Regions from separate parts of the Homo sapiens genome. Here region 1 is linked to region 2. The links come from fine-mapping of genetic effects on gene expression. A gene starts in region 2. The other region holds a variant in brackets. All regions are shown on one strand. Distances are between the middles of the regions.

Region 1 (10,792 bases), 100 kb before region 2:
AGAAGCACATGAGCACCTGTACTCACTGTATTCAGCACCCATTTGGTGCTTAGCTCACGCTGGAACTTCTGAAAAGGGCAGACACATGGGGGTGTCAAAAATTAGAGGACAGAAAAGCAGCAGAGTGAACAGGGCCCTGTTATCAGACAGGAAACCAACTGTCAAGAACCAGGGACCAAAATGCAAACATGATTTGTTTGAGCAGCCCAGCGTTTAAATGTTAGGGCAATAGATGTAAACCAGGATTGTCTCAGGCAAACCTGGTAGCTTCACCCATTTGTGTTTTTGACCCCTAGGTAGACAGACATGTTCTCTGAGTCCTTCCATATTAGAATTTTGATCCTGCTGAATTGTTCCTTTTTCTCCCCGGGTATCAGACAGGAGGAGTGGGATTCATTCCACTAAACCACAGGCTTCTTGAAAGGGCAGAGATGGTGACTTATTCTGCTCCAGGGCCCCAGTTTTTTAGACCATGACTGACACATATTTGCTGATCAATACATTTGTTGAGGCCGGGCACAGTGGCTCACTCCTGTAATCCCACCACTTTGGGAGGCCAAGGTTGGGGGATCACCTGAGGTCAGGAGTTCTCAACAAGCCTAGCCAACATGATGAAATGCTGTCTCTACTAAATACACAAAAATTAGCTAGGAGTGGTGGCATACACCTGTAATCCCAGCTACTCGGGGGGCTGAGGCACAAGAATCACTTGAACCCGGGAGGTGGAGGTTGCAGTGAGCCTAGATTGTGCCACTGCACTCCAGCCTGGGCAACAGAGTGAGACTATGTCTCAGGGGAAAAAAAAATGTTTGTTGAAAAATGAATTCTATTTAATTTTTCTAACAGCCCTACAGAATAAGTTTACCTATCCTCATTTCTACATATGAGGAAACTAGAGGTCAGAAGTAAATTAACTTGGAGAAGCTCATATGATAACGAGATGGAGAATGAGGACCTAAATCCCGGTCTTCTGATTCAATGATGAGGGCATTTCCTACTTTGCCACAAATATCTCCTGGATGAATGAGAGAACCTATGTAAAGGCATGTTGAAAACTAAAAAATTGTTCAAACATGTGGTATCGCGAGTATAAAACTGCCCCTTGTTTTTGGCCCTTATATCTTGTCCACCTTGGGGCACTTATAACACCTATTGGCACATTAGCAGGGAAACTGGGGCCCAGTAAAGGTGTTGAGGGGATTAATTAACTGGTGATATGGTTAGGCTTTGTGTCCTCACCCAAATCTCATCTTGAATTGTAATCCCCATAATCCCCATGTGTCAAGAGAGAGACCAGGTGGAGGTAATTGAATCATGGGGGGCAGGGGGCGTTCCCCCATGCTGTTCTTGGGATAGTGAGTTCTCATGAGATCTGATGGTTTTATAAGGGGGCTGTTCCCCCTTCACTTGGCACTTCTCCTTTCTGCCACCTTGGGAAGAAGATGCCTTACTTCCCCTTCACCTTCCACCATGATTGTAAGTTTCCTGAGGCCTCCCCAGCCATGCTGAACTGTGGGTCAATTAAACCTCTTTCCTTTATAAATCACCCAGTCTCGGGCAGTTCTTTAGAGCAGTATGAAAATGTACTGGCCAAGGTGGGCGGATCATGAGGTCAGGAGATTGAGACCATCCTGGCTAACATGGTGAAACCCCGTCTCTACTAAAAATACAAAAATTAGCCAGGCATGGTAGCAAGCACCTGTAAGTCAGAGCTACTTAGGAGGCTGAGGCAGGAGAATCACTTGAACCCAGGAGGCAGAGGTTGCAGTGAGCCTAGATCACGCCACTGCACTCCAGCCTGGCGACAGAATGAGACTCCATATTAAAAAAAAAAAAAAAAAAGGTACTAATACACGTGGTCCTAGCCAGGCTGAGGAAACAGGCTACTGCTACTTTTACCTCTTTATTCTGGAACTCTAGAAATAGCTGTTCACACAAAACCCTGGAAGAGGGTATATTGAAAACATTTTAATAAGTGAATGTCCACGACACTAAATATAAGAACAGCATGAAATTTCAGCATGAAACTGGCCAGTAAGTATGCAGTACTGATGCTATAGGGTGCGTGTCAGACTGCACTTTGGGAGAGAGGTCAATTAGATCTAGGTTATACCACTAACCATTGATACCATTAACATTAACACCATTAACACAAAAATATTTTAAATTTTACAAAATTTGGAGTGCGACACATTCATTTTAAAGTACACATGGAAAAATCGGCCTGGATATAGCCAGGAAAATCCTTAAAAAGAAGAATAGGCTGGGCACAGTGGCTCACGCCTATAATCCCAGCACTTTGGGAGGCTGAGGTGAGTGGATCACTTGAAGTCAGGAGTTTGAGACCAGCCTGGCCAACAGGGTGAAACCTGATCTCTACTAAAAATACAAAAGAAAATTTGCCTGGTGTAGTGGCGCGTGCCTGTAATCCCAGCTACTTGGGAGGCTGAGGCAAGAGAATCACTTGAACCTGGGGGGCGGAGGTTGCAGTGAGCCGAGATCATACCATTGAACTCCAACTTGGGCAACAGAATGAGACTCCATCTCAAAAAAAAAAAAAAAAAAAAAAAAACAAGAATGAAGAACAAACCCTATTGGATACCAAACATACCATAACGCCTCCATAATTAAAACATATGGTACCAGCACATCAATAGACAAACCAGTGGAACAGAATAGAAAGTCCATAAATAGACCAATGCACATAGAAATTGAGTATGTGACACAGATAGCATCCTAAATCACTCAGGAAAAGATGAACTTAAAAAAATTATATTGGAGCCAGGCACGGTGGCTCACCCCAGTAACCCCAGCTCTTTGGGAGGCTGGGACAGGAGGATTGCTTGAGGCCAGGGATTTGAGACCAGCGTGTGCAACATAGCAAGAACCTGTCTCTACAAAAAAAAAAAAAAAAATTTTGTTTAATTAGCCAGGCATGGTGGCATGTGCCTGTAGTCCCAGCTACTTGGGAGGCTGAGGTGGGATGATTGCTTCAGCCCAGGAGTTTGAGGTTGCAGTGAAATCTGATCACATCACTGCACACCAGCGTGGGTGACAGAGTGAGATTCTGTCTCAAAAAAAAAAAAAAAATATATATATATATATATATACGAACAATTGGATAATCACTTGGAAAAATAAATAATTGGATTCATGCCTTACCCCATACACAAGAATAAACTCCCAATAAATTAAAGATCTAAGTGTTTAAAAAAGAAAAAAAGAAACCATCTCTACTAGCAGAAAACATGGATGGAATTCCTTTACAATTTAGATGTTAGAAAAAGCTTTCTGGACCACGCCTATAATCCCAGTGCTTTGGGAGGCAGAGGCGAGTGGATCACTTGAGGTCAGGAGTTTAAGACCAGCCTGGCCAACATGGTGACACCCCTGGCCAACATGGTGAAACAAAATTAGCTAGGCATGGTGGCAAGCGCCTGTAGTCCCAGTCACTCGGGAGGCTGAGGTGGGATGATCACCAGAGCCCAGGAAGTTGAGGCTGCAGTGAGCCATGATCACACCACAGCACTCCAGCCTAGGTGACAGAATGAGACCCTGTCTCAAAAAAATAATAAAATAAGGCTGGGCGTGGTGGCTCACGCCTGTAATCAGCACTTTGGGAGGCCGACATGGGCAGATCACCTGAGGTCAGGAGTTCGAGACCAGCCTGGCCAACATGGTGAAACCCTGTCTCCACTATAAATGCAAAAATTAACTGTGCATGGTGCTGGGCACCTGTAATCCCAGCTACTTGGGAGGCTGAGGCAGAAGAATTGCTTGAACCTGGGAGGCAGAGGTTGCAGTGAGCTGAGATCACATCACTGCACTCCAGCCTGGGTGACAGAGCAAGACTCCATCTCAAAAAACAATAATAATAATAGTAATAAAATAATAATAAATAAATGAAAACTACACAGAAGTGGCATTTCTAATCTATCAGGTTGACAAAATCCAAAAACTTCACAAAACTCTCCAAGAGGCTGTAGGAGAGCAGCATTCTTGTATATTGCTGGTATGGAAAGCAAAATAGTAAACCCTATGGAAGGAAATTTTGCAATATCTAACAAAATGGCATATGTATGTACCGTTTGACCCAGCTCTAATACTTCTAGGAATTTATCCCAAAGATACTCTTCTGACATTATAAAAATACATGTACATTCATTACATCATGATTGATCATAGCAAAATATGGGAAACCTATATGTCCTACATAGGAGATTGCCTGAGTAAACTATTACATATGTGGAAACACACAAAGGTAAAAATTAATGAGGAAGAGCTCTATGATCCAATATGGAGTGATTTTCAGAATATCTTCTTAAAGCACAAAAGAGTATAGTAGACTGCCTTTTGTATAGGAAGTGCAAACTTATATGTACACACACACTTTTCTCCAAAAAGAAACATAGGAGGATAAGCCAGTAACTAATTAAACTAATTCCCTACAGGCATGAATGGAAATGGAATGAGACGGCAGATATATTGATGATGTTGGAAATCAACATTATCACTAAGGGAAAGAGGAAGAAGAGTGGGAA[T/C]ATATATACAGTATTTATATAGATGTATATATAGATGTATGTGTGTGTATATATATATATACGCAGACACATTCATCTGTATGTAAACAAACATACATATGTATATGTATGTATGCATGTATATATACATAAACACACACATACACACACCCTTATTCTTTCTACTGATAGGGCTTAGAGGCAAAGACACACCAGTAGCAGTGAACATACCTAGCATTTGGGTTTCTAAATACTAGAACCCACTAACAAGATCAGGTCTCCTCAGAAAAATGACTGACTCCAGGGCTGGATCAGGGAAAGTATAGGTGAGCCTGGGTCAGTGGTTTTGTGTTCCTGCATAGGAGATTGACAGGGCAAACTATTGTTACACACACACACACACACACACACACACACACACACACAAATGCAAATAATAAGTAATAATGAGGAAGAGATCTATAAACTGCACTGCAGTGATTTTCAGAATATCTTAAGCAAAAAATGCAAGATATAAAAAAGATGCTACCTTTTGCATAAGAAGGTTATTATTATTTTACAAAAAGAAACACAACAAAGAGTGTTCAAATACTGATGTGGATATGTCACAAGGACACAGGAACCAGCTTGAATGAACTCTCATTTTGAGCATTAAAATAAATAATGAATAATAAGAATGGATTAAAACACATTTAACAACAACAAAAAATTCATGAGTCCATATTGACACTAAAAAAACAAAGATAGATAGGGTAGATAGGACGGGGAGAGAAGAAAAAGATTTTCTTTCTTTCTTTTTTTTTTTTTTGTGACGGAGTCTCGCTCTATCACCCAGGCTGGAGTGCAATGGCACGATCTCAGCTCACTGCAACCTCTACCTCCTGGTTCAAACAATTCTCCGACTCAGCCTCCTGAGTATCTGGGACTACAGGTGCACACCACCACACCCGGCTAATTTTTGTATTTTAGTAGAGATGGGGTTTTGCTATGCTGGCCAGGCTGGTCTCAAACTGCTGGCCTCAAGTGATCCACCTGCCTCAGCCTCCCAAAGTGCTGGGATTACAGATGTGAGCCACCGCACCTGGATGAGAGAGATTTTCTTTACAGAAGAATGCCAACTACTGAATATAGATGGAAGGGATAGAAATAGAAAATCACCATTGAAAAACTACCATAGTAATAATTAATTCAACCAAGAATCATCAGTGGATGCTAAAACCATTGGGTGAAAGATTGCTGAGGAATAGGATACAGAGAAATCTAACAGACACCATCCTAGCTAAACGATGGAATGTAGCATCACCAATAAAGGGGCAAACTGACATCAGGTACCTCCCGATGTGATACACTGATAAGGGCACAACTTCCCCTATGCAGTACTCCTGCCAAAAAATTTAACCTGAATATCATGACGAAACAATCAGGCAAATCCAAAGTGAGGCATATTCTGGAAAACAACTGACCTGGACTTACTTCTAAGATATCAATGTCATCAAAGAGATAAAGAACAACTGAGAAACTCATCTGGAGTAAAGGAAAACCCAAAAGACCTGATAACTGAATGCAGTGCATTATCCTTGATTGGATCCTGGATCTGGGAAATAAAAACAATACAGGAATATTTGGGGAAATTTGAATATGGTCTAGATAATAGATAATAGTATATTAATTGTCATTTTCCTGAGTGGAAAAGTATATTGTAATTATGTAGGTGAATGCCCTTGTTCTTAGAGGACACATACCAAAGTAATTAGTATAACATATCAGGCATCTCCAATTATCTTCTTTTTTTTTTTTTTTTGAGATGGAGTCTCACTCTGTCACCCAGGCTGGAGTGCAGTGGCATGATCTCGGTTCACTGCAACCTCCACCTCCCAGGTTCAAGTGATCCTCCTGCCTCAGCCTCCCGAGTAGCTGGGACTATGAGCATGTGCCACCATGCCCGGCTAATTTTTGTATTTTTAGTAGAGATGGGTTTCACCATGTTGGCCAGGCTGGTCTTGAACTCTTGACCTTGTGATCCACCCACCTCAGCCTCCCAAAGTACTGGGATTGTAGGCGTGAGCCACCACGCCCGGCTTTTTTTTTTTTTTTTTTTTTGAGATGGAGTCTTGTGTCGCCCAGGCTGCAGTGCAGTGGTATGATCTCAGCTCACTGCAACCTCTGCCTCCCAGGTTCAAGCGATTCTTCTGCCTCAGCCTCCTGAGTAGTTGTGATTACAGGTCCAAGCCACCACGCCTGGCTAATTTTTGTATTTTTAGTAGAGATCAGGTTTCACCATGTTGATCAGGCTGGTCTCGAACTCCTGACCTTGTGATCTGCCTGCCTTGGCCTCCCAAAGTGCTGGGATTACAGGCATGAGCCACCGTACCTGGCTCCAATTATCTTTCATATAATTCAGGGGAAAAGAAAGAGATGAAGCAAATATGGCAAAATGTTAATAATTGATGAATCTAGGGAAAAGTATATGGGTGTTCCTTGCACCATTTTCGTATTTTTCTGTAGGTTTGATTTTTATCAAAATAAAAGTGTATCCACTGTCACTTCGGAAGGCAAAAAAGAAAACAAAACAAAACAAAATAAAAGTGTAGGAACAGTTTACATAGAAAATATTTCTTTTTTTTATTTTTAATTTTTATTATTATTTTTTTTTGAGACAGAGTTTCACTCTTGTTGCCCTGGCTGGAGTGCAATGGTGCGTTCTCAGCTTACTGCAACCTCGGCTTCTCCTGCCTCAGCCTCCCGACTAGCTGGGATTACAGGCACCCACTACCATGCTCAGGTAATTTTTTTGTATTTTTAGTAGAGACAGGGTTTCACCATGTTGGCCAGGGTGGTCTCGAACTCTTGACCTCAGGTGACCTGCCCGCCTTGGCATCCCAAAGTGCTGGGATTACAGGCGTGAGCCACGGCGTCTGTCAAAAATATTTCTATAGCTAAAGATTGACCAGCCCAAACAAAGCCTCTTTATTTCAAACAATTCCAATTCATTTAGAAAGATAAAACCAGGCTGAGTGCAGTGGCTCACTCCTGTAATCCCAGCACTTCGAGAGGCCAAGGCAGGTGTATTACCTGAGGTCCGAAGTTCGAGACCAGCCCGGCCAACATGGTGAAACCCTGTCTCTACAAAAAATGAAAAAAGTAGCAGGGCATAGAGGCGTGTGCCTGTAATCCCAGCTACTCAGGAGGCTGAGGCAGGAGAATCGCTCGAACCCGGGAGGCAGAGGTTGCAATGAGCCAAGATCACACCACTGTACTCCAGCCTGGGCCACAGAGCGAGACTCTGTCTCACAAATAAATAAACAAATAAATAAAACCAACATCAACCAAAAGGCAAAAAACACAAAGGAAAAGATTGATAGATTTGACTATGTAACATTTTAAATAAAATGTCTCTACATAAAAAACGTAAAAACAAAAGAAAATATTAAGCTGGGAAAAATATAGAAAAGAAAAAAAGGGCTACTGTTTTTGCTATACACACCCCTTCTTACAAATAAGAAAAAAAAATACCCCCCAAAGAAAGAATGGGTAAATAGACCCAAAAGACAAGAAGCAGTACATGAAAGACAAAAAAAAAGTATCAAATGGCCAATATATATTTTTAAGTAGTCCACCTACACAATAATTAAAGAAATATAAATTAAAATAACACTAAAATGCCCTTTTGTTGCTTTACTGATTAGCAAAGATTTTTTTATAAGGATGCTATCCAGTATGTATAAGGGTGTAAGGGAACAAGCAACTTCACGCTTTATTTATAAACCTCTTTGGAGGGCAGTTTGGCTGTATGTATCAAAAAGCTTCAAAATTTTACATCCCCTTTGACCCAGTGATTTCGCTTTTGGGGTTTATCCTGGTGAAACAAGTCAAATGCCTAAAAGATGTGTTTATAAGGATGTTCAGTGCAGCACTTTAATAAAAACCATAATATTGAAGTTGTCTCTGTGTCTGATAATCGGAGTTAAACAATTTATGGTACATCTATACAGTGGAATATTACATTGACACTAAAAATGATAGTAGTGGCCGGGCGTGGTGGCTCACGCCTGTAATCGCAGCACTTTGGGAGGCTGAGGCGGGTGGATCACAAGTTCAGAAGATCGAGACCATCCTGGCTAACACGGTGAAACCCCGTCTCTACTAAAAAATACAAAAAATTAGCCAGGCGTGGTGGCGGGCACCTGTAGTCCCAGCTGCTCAGGAGGCTGAGGCAGGAGAATGGCGTGAACCTGGGAGACAGAGCTTGCAGTGAGCGGAGATCGCGCCACTGCACTCCAGTCTGGGTGACAGAGCGAGACTCCATCTTAAAAAAAAAAAAAATGATAGTAGTGATCTATCAGATGAGAACATGTCCCGGCATGATAAAAATAAATAATAATAATAATAATTTTTGAAAATGATGGTGATCTATTAGTACAGAAAGATGTTCATAAAGCAACTTTAAAACAGCATATCAAGTATGGTCTTACTTTTGTACAAATATATTTATATATGCATATAATAGAAATTTAAAAGGACATTCTCCAAAATTTGTTAGAGTGTTTTTTTTTTTTTTTTGAAGATGGTAGATTTGGAGTGATTTTTTCTTTTTTGCATTTCTGTAATTTGTAACGTCTTTACTATAAAAAATGTATCTATAAAAAATGTATGGCTGTTAAAATGAACATTTTTCTTTAAAAATACAGTGTTTTGGCTAGGCGTAGTGGCTCACGCCTGCAATCTCAGCACTTTGGGAGGCTAAGGCGGGTGGATCACTTGAGTCTAGGAGTTGGCAAACAGCCTGGGCAATGTGGAGAAACCCGATCTCTACAAAAAAAATACAAAAATTAGCCAGTCATGGTGGTGAGTGCCTGTGGTCCTACCTACTTGAGAAGCTGAGGTGGGAGGATCAGTTGAGCAGGGGAGGCGGAGGTTGCAGTGAGCTGAGATGGCACCACTGCACTTTAGTCTGGGCCACAGAGTGAGACTTTGTCTTTAAAAAATAAAAAGAATGAAAGACATTGGAAGGAGAGTGGATTCCCTGTTCAGGGGCAGAGAAACTTCCGCTTCTATACGAGTTCTGAGTCCAGGTAAGTCAGTGTTTCAGCTGTGTCTGGTCAAGCCAGGAAACTTCTGACAGACATGGTTTGAATAACGAATAAGAGACCACATCTCTCCAGAGCAACCCTTCAGGGCCCTGATTCTGCCCATGGAGGGTGGGCAGGTGGTGTATGAGAAAACTGAGAACCAGAGATGTAAAATTGCTTGCTTTCTTGGGCCACACTGTAGAGCTAGACCGGCATCCAGAGCTCCCAATGCCCACACAAAGCTCTAAATTGCAAAGAGCACACACACTGATTATTATTTCTGTAATTATTATCAGTATTTGTGCTGGATTATAATTCATTGGCAAGCAGGGACTATATGCACATAAAGTTATCTGCAATGAATTCAGCATAGTAAACTTGCAAAAAAAAAAAAGGTGTGGTAAAAGCTTTTGGATAATGATGATGACTTTGGTATCAAGAATTAACCTGTCCCAGCCAGGCGCAGCGGCTTACACCTGTAATCCCAGTACTTTGGGAGGTCGAGGCAGGCAGATCACTTGAGGTCAGGAGTTCGAGACCAGCCTGGCCAACATGAGGAAACCCTATCTCTACTAAAAATACAAACAGTAGCCGGGCATGGTGGTGCACACCTGTAGTCCCAGCTACTTGAGGCACGAGAATCACTTGAACCCAAGAGGCAGAGGTTGCAGTGAGCCAAGATTGCACCACTGCACTCCAGCCTGGGCGACAGAGTGAGACTCTGTCTCAAAGTAAAAATAATTAACCTGTCCCAAAGGACAAATGAACATCTGTCAGGTGACTGGAGGCCTATCCCGCAACTTTTTGCATATTCCTAGAGACAGCTGAGCCCAGTAGTTCATTGCCTTGGGAATTCTGACTAGTAACCTGGTAACCCATGACCTTGCCCAGCTGGCTTTGTGAGGGTCAGAGAGGTCTCCAAACTTTCTGCCCTACAGCCTTGGGTTTTTTGATTCTTGGAATCCCTCACCCTCTGAGCCCCTTACTGCAGATAGGACCTTCTCATTCCCCATACCTGGATGAAGTTCCCTTCATATTCAAAGAAAAGCAGTGGCCATGTGATGCTGATGATGGAGGGAAAGAGCTTCTTCAGAGGGATCTGGAGAGAGAGAAAGAGGAGCAGGAGAGGCATCTCCAGGAAGGCCTGGCTGCAACTGCCACCTGGGTCCCTTTGTCACGGCTGGACTCTCACCAGCAAGGTCT
Region 2 (11,171 bases):
GCCTCCACGCCCACCTAATTTTTGTATTTTTAGTAGAGGCAGAGTTTCACCATATTGGCCAGGCTGGTGTCGAACTCCTGACCTCAGATGATCCGGCCGCCTCAGCCTTCCAAAGTGCTGGGGTTACAAGTGTGAGCCACCACGCCCATCCACATTTAACCTTTAAGGCAATGTCTCCCAGGCTGGCAACATTCCCAGAGATCTATAATTACATGCCTCAGGGTTCATAATTTCTTTTTTTTTTTTTTTTTTGAGACGGAGTTTTGCACTGTCACCCAGACTGGAGTGCAGTGGCGCAATCTCGGCTCACTGCAACTTCTGCCTCCCAGATTCAAGTGATTCTCCTGCCTCAGCCTCCCAAGTAGCTGGAATTACAGGCATGTTGCCACCATACCCTGCTAATTTTGTAGTTCTAGTAGAGACAGGGTTTCTTTTTTTTTTCTGAGACAAAGTCTCGCTCTGTTGCCCAGGCTGGAGTGCCATGGCACGATCTCAGCTCACTGCAACCACTGCCTCCTGGGTTGAAGCGATTCTCCTGCCCCAACCTCCCAAGTAGCTGGGATTACAGGTGTGTGTCACCACGCCCAGCTGATTTTTGTATTTTTAGTAGAGACGGGGTTTCACCACGTTGGTCAGGCTGATCTCGAACTCCTGACCTCGTGATCTGCCCGCCTCAGCCTCCCAAAGTGCCGGGATTACAGGCGTGAACCACCGTGCCCGGCCAGACGGGGTTTCACCATACTGGTCAAGCTGGTCTTGAACTCTTGACCTCAGGTGATCCACCCACCTCAGTCTCTCAAAGTGCTGGGATTACATGTGTGAGCCACCATGCCTGCCATAAAAACCCTTTTTTCATGTGGACTAACACCTCAAGTACATGTTCAGGAGCTGGCTCTATTACCATGTCTGATTAGCCAGATTTTTGCAGCTCATACTTTAAAGACAGACTCAGCATTATCAATCGATCTATGAATATAGTATTGCGTTTTGGGTGTTTTTTTTTTTTTTTTTTTTTTTTTTAGACAGAGTCTTGCTCTGTCACCCAGGCTGGAGTACAGTGGCGCGATCTCGGCTCACTGCAAGCTCCGCCTCCTGGGTTCATGCCATTCTCCTGCCTCAGCCTCCCGAATAGCTGGGACTACAGGCGCCCACCATCACGCCCGGCTAATTTTTTGTATTTTTTAGTAGAGACAGGGCTTCACCATGTTAGCCAGGATGGTCTCGATCTCCTGACCTCGTGATCCACCCGCCTCGGCCTCCCAAAGTGCTGGGATTACAGGCGTGAGCCACTGCGCCCGGCCTTTTTTTAAAATTTTTTTTCTTTCTCCCTTCTAGTCAAAGCATGAAACCTTTACGTCACTGGAAATATACTGTAGTGACTTTGAGGGGAATAGGATGGTGAGGGGATAATCTTCATACTCTTTCTCCTTTTTCACCTCTTTCCATGATCCCCCTTAGTATCTATCTCCCCTCTCTGTAACATTATTGCTCTCCCAGTGCGTTACTTTTTCCTTGAGTCATATTGTGTGTGTGCGTGTGTGTGTTTATATAGTATTTTTAGTAGAGAGAGGGTTTCACCATGTTGGCCAGGCTGGTCTCGGACTATTGACCTTAAGTGATCCGCCTGCCTCAGCCTCCCAAAGTGCTGGGATTACGGGCGTGAGCCACTGTGCCCAGCCTCGAGTTATATTTTCTTTTCCACTTTTTTTCTTGTCTGTTTTTTTCCCATTTATTTTCAGGCCACCTCCTATTTTTTGTGAACACAATTAAATGTGGCTTCCATTCCATATTTAGCGTGTATGTATGGACACTTAAACAGCAGTCTTTTGTTGAATAATATACAACATTTATGGATAACTCAGCACTTTACATTCAATTCCTCTTATCCTTAAAGCAGTCTTGAAGAGTAGATGCTGTATGTCTGTCTTGCAGATGAACTTAGCCTAAGAGGGAATAAGTAACTTGTGAAAGATCTCATAGGTAATATGTGGCAAAATTCATGCTCTTTAAACAATGTCACATTCCATTCTTAGGAAAAAACAAAGTCCAAAAAGAAAAAAAAAAAGAAAGAAAAAAAAGAAGGCGGGCATAGTGGCACATGTCTGTGGTCCTGGCTATTTGGGAGGCTAAAGTGGAAGGATTGCTTGAGCCCAGAAGTTCAAGACCAGCCTCAGCAACATAGCAAGACCTCATTTCTTAGAAGAAGGAGGAAGAGGAGGAGCAGAAGGAGAAGAAAGAAGAGGCTGAGTAATTTTTGTTGTTGCTGTTTTGTTCATTTGTTTGTTTTTTGAGACAGGGTCTCACTCTGTCGCCCAGGCTGGAGTGCAGTGACACCATCTCAGCTCACTGCAACCAAGGCTGAGTAATTTTATATGCTCCCTCTACACTGCTTTGGTCAGAGATCTCATCTAGGTTCCTGGCAACCTGCAAGCCTAATTAACATCTTTTCCACTTTCATGGCTTAACTCCAATCTAATATTTTCAATGTTTTTATATTAGTTGTCACCCTAAACTGAACCACTGTTTTCCCCCCAAAACTAGCATCCCCTCAAACTGCACCTTTTTCTGTTAATGGCTCCACCACATTTTGTTATGCAGAGTCAAAATCTTGGTGTTATTCATTCATTCAACAAATATTTAAATATTATTCAGCACATACAACTTTGCAAGGGATGCTGGAAAACACAATGGTAAGTTTAATGGAACTTCTGCCTTCATAAAGGCTTATATTCTATCAGGAAAGACAAACAAGTGTGGACCCAAACTAGTATAGTGATAGTAGAGATTTCCTGGAGAAAGTGATGGTCAAGAGGGGTGTGGAGAGGTGTGCTCCATGGGTAAAAGTGTAAGAGAAAGCATGGCTTTAGATGCACCCAAAGACATTGCTGAAGCAGAGTTGTAGGAGAAATGGAGAGTTAAAGAGAGGCATACGTGAATCTGGATGATTAGCATGAAGGGTCTTGTAAACTATAAGGAATTTGGACTATCGGAAGAGCATGAAGAAGCCATGATTAGTTTTATCTTTTTAAAGAATCTTTTTTTTTTTTTTGAGACGGAGTTGCTCTGTCACCCAGGGTGGAGTGCAGTGGCGCCATCTTGGTTCACTGCAACCTCCGCCTCTGGGGTTCAAGCTATTCGCCTGCCTTAGCCTCCCAAGTAGCTGGGATTACAGGAGCGCACCACTACGCCTGGCTAATTTTTGTATTTTTAGTAGAGACGGGTTTCACATGTTGGCCAGGCTGGTCTCGAACTTCTGGCCTCAAGTGATCCACCACCCCCCCTTGGCCTCCCAAAGTGCTGGGATTACAAGTGTGAGCCACTGTGCCCGGCTGAAAAGAATCAATTTTGTCATAGTTTGGAGAATTTCTCCTTTTCTCTCCATCCCTTGAATGCAATTTATTACCAAATCTGTCTTATTTGTTATTGTCTAATTTGTCCTTTCATCTGGATTCCCATTGCCACCCTGCGTGGTACCACCTTACTCCCAGCTCTTCTCATCTCCTGCTTAGAGTAAGAGCTCTCTAACTAGTAGCAGTGCCCCAGGCCAGGCGCGGTGGCTCACGCCTGTAATCCCAGCACTTTGGGAGGCTGAGGCGGGTAGATCACGAGGTCAGGAGTTCGAGACCAGCCTGGCCAACATGGTGAAACCCCGTCTCTACTAAAAATACAAAAATTAGCCAGGCGTGGAATCCTAGCTACTCGGGAGGCTGAGGCAGGAGAATCGCTTGAACCTGGGAGGCGGAGGTTGCAGTGAGCCAAGATAGCGCCACTGCACTGCAGCCTGGGCAACAAGAGCGAAACTCTGTCTTAAAAAAAAAACAATAGTAGGCGGGGTGCGGTGGCTCACGCCTGTAATCCCAACACTTTGGGAGGCCGAGGCGGGCGGATCACGAGGTCAGGAGATGGAGACCATCCTGGCTAACACGGTGAAACCTCGTCTCTACTAAAAATACAAAAAATTAGCCAGGCGTGGTGGCGGGCGCCTGTAGTCCCAGCTACTCGGGAGGCTGAGGCAGGAGAATGGCGTGAACCCGGGAGGCGGAGCTTGTAGCCTGGGCGACAGAGCGAGACTCTGTCTCAAAAACAAACAAAAAACAACAACACAACAGTGCCCCAGACTCTCTCCCTCCAATGTACACTGCATACAAAGACTAGACAAACGATGCCAAAGGTTACACCAGGACGACAATGAAGTCCAAGTCACTCATCTTGGCGCTTCTTTTTATCAAGCTAGCTAGTTAATATTACCACTTACAATCATTCTCCGAGTCCAGCCAGCTTCCTCAGAAATCCTCCCCAAATGCAGTTCACATTCTTCCCTCACTCCTCCAAACCTTATAACATTATTCCCTTTTCCTGTGGCATAATGCAATCCAGAGGCATCCTCTCTGAGAGCCTACATCCTTTCAATCCTCCAAGAAACAGCTCCTCCTCCCATCCTTGAGCTTTTCCCACCCAGAATAGGCTGTACCAAACATTTCTACATTGTATTAACTCGAATTATATCACAGATCGAGGTCTTCGCTTTCAGAAAAGACTCACATTCTTCTCATATAGGCCTCGCATGGCCTGGCCAAGTACTTCCTAAGCTCGGAACAAATACTGGTCAACTTTAATTGAACCAAATCGGGCGGGGTTTGCGGAGTCTGAGAGTGCAACGTTGGGGAGAGGGGGATGAAAACACTGGAGGACGGGCTGAAAGCGTCGAGTCCGACACAAAAGAGGCGTCAGACAAAACGCCAAGAGGCTGGGGACTGGGAACGAAGGAAGAGGTTCTGCCAGAGGCGACCTGCCACCTGCGCGAGGAAGCGGAGTAGGACGGCGGCCGTTGGTGGGCGTGGTCGCGCTAGTCTCGCGGGAGCGGCCGTTGGGCGGGCCGTTGTCCCTGCGGGCGGGGCGAGTTGCTAAGGAAATGACTGCCCGCAGCGCCTGGCCCCGCCGCGCAGGCCGGGCGGGGTCTGGAGCGGCGCCGTTTCCGCTTCCGCTCCCTCACAGCTCCCGTCCCGTTACCGCCTCCTGGCCGGCCTCGCGCCTTTCACCGGCACCTTGCGTCGGTCGCGCCGCGGGGCCTGCTCCTGCCGCGCGCACCCCCGGGGCTTCGGCTCCGGCACGGGTCGCGCCCAGCTTTCCTGCACCTGAGGCCGCCGGCCAGCCGCCGCCATGGGTGCCTACCTCTCCCAGCCCAACACGGTGAAGTGCTCCGGGGACGGGGTCGGCGCCCCGCGCCTGCCGCTGCCCTACGGCTTCTCCGCCATGCAAGGCTGGCGCGTCTCCATGGAGGTGAGGAGGCAGGGGCCCATAGGCTGGCCGCTGCGGGGCGGGAATCTGACGGAGAAAGAGAGCGGGGGATGGGGTCCTCCCCTGGGAAGGGTCCCAATTGGGAGCCTGCGGCCGCAGCGGCCGTTTGCGGGGCGACAGAGACCGCGGGGTCAGGGCCGAGAGGGAGCTCCCGATGCTTGGGGACCGTGTGCCGGTGGCCAGTGGCGGCGAGGGCTCGGCCATGTGGGAAGAGGCACCTTCCGCCCACTGACCGCCCTCTCCCCGAGCTTTGGCGCCATCCTCTCGTGCCAACCTAGCCCTCCAGGCTCATCAACGGTGTGAGGTTTAGTGTGGGAGTAAAGACGCAAATAGGGGCTATTTATTCATTTGTTTTTCAAGGGAGAGGTGAATAGATGTGAATAACTTTTTAAATTTTAATATTTAAAATATCTGATGTGGGAAGCCTCTTTTGGCTAGGAGTTTGACAGTGAAAGGAACCCCGGGCAGAGTCTGTTTCACATTTTGGTTGCCTGGCCTTGGGCTCTTGCATGTTAATTTCAGAGGCTGGACCCGACCTCCAGGAGTTGTCACTCATTTGCACTCTTTTCAGGGCCTTTTACTAACTTCGGAAAACTTGAATTATGTCAGTCCCTAGGTTTTCCTTTTTATTATGCTTCGTTTTCTTTCTCTCTTAGGATTTCTCTAAAACTTAATCAGTAATTCTCATTTGCCTGTAATTGTAGTTTATAGTTTCTTTGATTGTAAGTCATTTCATCAATTTTTTTCATCACAACCTACCTACAAAGGGCTTTTCTAGAAAATTTTACTCTGGACAAAAGGGGAAAAGAAAAATATTGGGGGGAAAGTAGTAGTATTAGGTAAAACTTGATGTGAAACTACAAAAGAGAAGAGGGAAAACTGCGGTAGGGAGGAAAGGGAGGAAGACGGGTTAACCGTGGCTTTGTGAAGAGCATTCTGAAGTCTAGGCAAAAGGGCCAGGGAAATACTCTGTCTGGTATTGAGGGTTTCTCCACCTACCGGGTGGGCTTCAGGTAACAGCGAAATACTGTCTCCCTTGGGAATTGTTTCAGATCCCTCGCTCCTCCCTGTGGTTAGCTCTGGAATGACAGTATGAACTTAAATGTTTTGTTTTCCGATTCAAATTTTATATTCATAACTGACCTTAATAACAATTTTATAATTAGGTATAAAATTTCAGGATTGGAGTGTATCCTATAGTTCATCTCATCTGCTTTGGCTCCCTTTTTTTTTTTTTGAGACAGAATTTCGCTCTTGTTGCCCAGGCTGGAATGCAATGGCGCGATCTCGGCTCACCGCAACCTCCGCCTCCCAGGTTCGAGCAATTCTCCTGCCTCAGCCTCCCTAGTAGTTGGGATTACAGGCATGTGCCACCACGCCTGGCTTATTTTGTATTTTTAGTAGAGACAGGGTTTCTTCATGTGGGTCAGGCTGGTGTTGAACTCCTGACTTAGGTGATCTGCCTGCCTCGGTCTCCCAAAGTGCTAGGATTACAGGCATGAACCACCACACCCTGCGGCTCCCACATTTTATAGCTAAGAAATTGAGGCCCAGAAAGGTTAGGACACTGTTTTGGTGGAAAGAATTTGTAGGATCAGATCGTTGAAGACACTAGACATTGTTAATCATCTATGTCAAACTGAAGCATAGCATTCATATTTCACCACCATACACAGTATAACTATTTGGTAGATGTAATTGTCTATTAGAAATATCTAGGCTGGGCGCAGTGGCTCACGTCTGTAATCCCAGCATTTTGGGAGGCCGAGGCAGGCAGATCACCTGAGCTCAGGAGTTCGAGACCAGCCTGGGCAACATGGCAAAAACCCTGTCTCTACAAAAAATACAAAAAAATTAGCTGGGCATGGTGGCACCCACCTGTAGTCCCAGTTACTTGGGAGGCTGAGATAGAAAATCACTTTGAGCCTGAGAGGCAGAGCCTTCATTGAGCCAAGATCGCCCCTCTGCACTCCAATCTGGGTGACAGAGCGAGACGCTGTCTCAAAAAATAAATGAATAGGCCAGGCATGGTGGCTCATGCCTGTAATCCTAACACTTTGGGAGGCTGCGGCGGGCGGATTGCCTGAGCTTAGGAGTTCGAGACCAGCCTGGACAACATGAAGAAACCCCGTCTTTATTAAAATACAAAAAATTAGCTGAATGTGGTGGTGCGTGCCTATAATCATAGCTACTTGGAAGGCTGAGGCAGGAGAATCGCTTGAATCCCAGAGGCGGAGGTTGCAGTGAGCCAAGATCGTGCCACTGTACTCCAGCCTGGGCGACAGAGTGAGACACTGTCTCAAAAAAAAAAAAAAAAAGAATAAATAAATAAATCTGGGTATAGTTTCGTAGGAAAGTCTTTTTGTAAAGTAGGTAGTCAAGAAGTTCCATTTCCATGGCATTTTCTGTTAACGTTGTGAGATTTGAGGTGAATATTCCATCTCGCAGTAAAACGTTTCTTCCAGGTTTCTCATTTAATATTTTTCACTTCTCTGCTGTTGTTTTTTCATTTCTTTGGTACCCTTCTTTCTACTTTTACTTACGGATTGAGTTGCTTGGCTACTCAGTGTTTCACGTTGGTTTGCCCAGTGATTCCATACTATTTGCTGCTTCTCTGTAGGGCATTTCCCTTTATTTTTGGTTTCTCCTCAATTAGAAAATGATTTTTTTTGTCAGGGACGGTTTAGTGTGTAGAGATCTTACTAGACTATTCCTTACATCCTAATCTTCCTCCTGAGAGATAACTGCTTAGGGTATTAAAATCTTGCTAATGTGCTGTTTCTGAAGTTGCCCTTGTTTGAATAAATATGCCTAATCAATAGTTAAATATGCCTAATCAAATCCTCTTGAAGAGTATTGTTTGGGATCCTATTCTGCTTCATTGATAGTGTTCCTTCTGGCTTTTTTTCTCTTCAAAGTGTAGCATAGTTTCTTTGCTATTGCAAGAAAATAACTATGAGTTCTAGCCTCTTCCCTGAATCTTATCTTTCCAGAAAATATAAAGTACTCCCATTCCTCTGAAGCTTTAGGGCTTAATCCAAAAATTAATAAAGTTTATTTACCCTATTTGCTTGGTCCTAATGCTTCATTTGAGGTAAGGTTATCATACCACTAAAGGTTGTTGACATGCTGACTGATGGATAGATTTAGCCGTAGAGAGGACTCTTGAGACAAAAATGGCAATCATCAATAGCTGGCATTTTTACTTTCTGCCTGTTTCAAGCTTCTCTTCCTGTGTGACCAGGGTGTTGTTGTTGTTTGTTTTGTTTTGTTTTGTTTTTGAGACGGAGTTTCTATCTTGTTGCCCAGGCTGGAGTACAATGGCATGATCTCGGCTCACTGCAACCTCCGCCTCCCGGGTTCAAGCGATTCTCCTGCCTCAGCCTCCTGAGTAGCTGGGATTACAGGCATGTGCCACCACGCCTGGCTAATTTTGTATTTTTAGTAGAGATGGGGGTCTCTCCATGTTGGTCAGGCTGGTCTCGAACTTCTGACCTCAGGTGATCGGCCCGCCTCTGCCTCCCAAAATGCTGTGAGCCACCATGCCCAGCAACCAGGGTGTTTTGAGAAAAGGTAATCAAAATACCACAGGCCAGTCGTGGTGGCTTAACGCCTGTAATCCCAGCAGTTTGGGAGGCCGAGGGGGGCAGATCACCTGAGGTCAGTTCGAGACCAGCCTAGTCAACATGGTGAAACCCCGTCTCTACTGAAAATACAAAAATTAGCCAGAGGCCAGAGAATTGCTTGAATAGGAAGGCCAGTGAGCCGAGATCTCACCGCTGCACTCTAGCCAGGGTGACAGACTCCGTCTCAAAAAAACAAACAAAAAAACCACCACAGTTGATGTTCTCCTCCTTCCTCCTTTCTCCATGAAAAAAGTGGATGAGGTATGTACTTTGGGATTAAGAGGTAGGCACTGGGCACGGTGGCTCATGCCTGTAATCCCAGCACTTTGGGAGGCCGAGGTGGGCGGATCACGAGATCAAGAGACCGAGATCATTCTGGCCAATATGGTGAAACCCTGTCTCTTCTAAAATACAAGAATTAGCTGGGCATGGTGGCGCACGCCTGTAGTCCCAGCTACTCCGGAGGCTGAGGCAGGAGAATCGCTTGAACCTGGGAGGCGGAGGTTGCAGTGAGCCGAGATCGCACCACTGCACTCCAGCCTGGGCGACAGGGTGAGACTCCATCTTAAAAAAAAAAAAAAAAAAATGAGGTAGGTTGTGGAGGGGTGCCTGAAAAATTATAAGGTAAGGCCCTTGAGTTTTTGTTGGCTAAATAAGAAGTCAAATCTGAAAATAGATTCAGTTGATGTAGTCTTTTTTTTTTTTTTTTTTCTCCGAGACGGAGTCTTGCACTGTTGCCCAGGCTGGAGTATAATGGCATGATCTTGGCTCACTGCAACCTCTGCCTCCTGAGTTCAAGCGATTCTCCTGCCTCAGCTTCCCGAGTAGCTGGGATTACAGGCGCCTGCCACCATGCCCGGCTAATTTTTTGTATTTTCAATAGAGACAGGGTTTCACTATGTTGGCCGGGTTGGTCTCCAACTCCTGACCTCTTAATCCGCCCGCCTCGGCCTCCCAAAGTGCTGGCATTACAGGCGTGAGCCACCATGCCTGGCCCATCAGTTGATGTAGTCTTAAGGGGACAAGAGTACATTTAATATTTGGTTGTGAGGTTCTCTGGAAGTGACAAAACTGCTTTCTATGGAGAGTTAGGAATTTTTTTTTTTTTTGAAACGGAGTCTCGCATTGTCACCCGGGCTGGAGTGTAGTGGCTTGATCTCGGCTCACTGAAACTTCCGCCTCTTGGGTTCAAGTGATTCTCCTGCCTCAGCCTTCCAAATAGCTGGGATTACAGGAGTCTGCCACCAGGCCAGCTAATTTTTTTTTGTATTTTTAGTGGAGACAGGATTTCACTATGTTGGCCAGGCTGGTCTCAAGACTCCTGACGTTGTGATCCACCTGCCTCGGCCTCCCAAAGTGCTGGGATTACAGATGTGAGCTACCGTGCCCGGCCAGGAATTTTTTGTGCTATAAATCATATTTTCCTTTTATTAAAGGCAGTGTCAATATCTATAGTATAATTTTGAGGAGGCTGGCTATTTATTGCTGTGTAGAAGCTGGCTTATTAGTGGTCAAGGGGTCATCTAGAATTGACTATAAAGATAGTATTGAGCAGAAAATTCTTAAAATACCTGCATATTTGTTTCAGTCATTAAATTAATGGAAAAAATATAAAAAGAAATATCACAAGTATGCTATGGGGTTCTACCTTAGGGCATTGAAGGTTGAAAAACATTTATTTTCTTATCTTCAGATTAGCATCTCATATCAATAGCCAATAGCTTAAAGCGCTTTTTACTTACTAAACCAGGTCAGAATTTCTCTCTCTCTCTCTTTTTTTTTTTTAGACAGAGTCTCTGTCACCCAGTCTAGAGTGCAGTGGTGTGATCTCGGCTCACTGGCCTTTCTGTTTAAGTGATTCTCCGGCCTCAGCCTCCTGAGTAGCTGGGATTACAGGCATGTGCCACGACACTTGGCTTATTTTTTGTATTTTTAGTAGAGATGGGGTTTCTCTGTGTTGGTCAGGCAGGTCTTGAACTCCTGACCTCAGGTGATCTGCCCGCCTCCGCCTCCCAAAGTGCTGGGATTACAGACGTGAGCTACTGCGCCTGGCCAGAATTTCTTTGTCTAGAATGTGGTTAGCAACTTTTATAAAAACGCATTATTTGCATTTGATTAGCATGCAGTACCCATTCACAGTTCAAAGCTAGTATAGAATTATATCACATGTATGCCCATGAGCATGGAGAAACTATTTTCTTTTTATTTTTTTAAGTTGGAGTTTTGCTCTTGTTGCCCAGGCTGGAG

Evidence for each region.
Region 1: its variant is fine-mapped to the expression of PPM1G in whole blood (TOPMed, PIP 0.95).

Annotation. Positions count from the first base shown.
Region 1 is chr2:27,508,064-27,518,855 of GRCh38, reverse strand. It overlaps GCKR (glucokinase regulator), which reads right to left. Exons shown (of 19, transcript NM_001486.4): 15 at 10,782-10,792; 16 at 10,605-10,688; 17 at 1-68. Among named protein-coding and RNA genes, the nearest start is that of GCKR, 17 kb to the right of the region's middle. The variant T/C (reference allele first, on the strand shown) is at 4,542.
Region 2 is chr2:27,403,412-27,414,582 of GRCh38, reverse strand. It overlaps PPM1G (protein phosphatase, Mg2+/Mn2+ dependent 1G), which reads left to right and starts at 4,992. Exons shown (of 10, transcript NM_177983.3): 1 at 4,992-5,280. The coding sequence starts at 5,161. RefSeq lists silencers at 4,822-5,011, 5,102-5,291, 5,362-5,411, 5,432-5,511.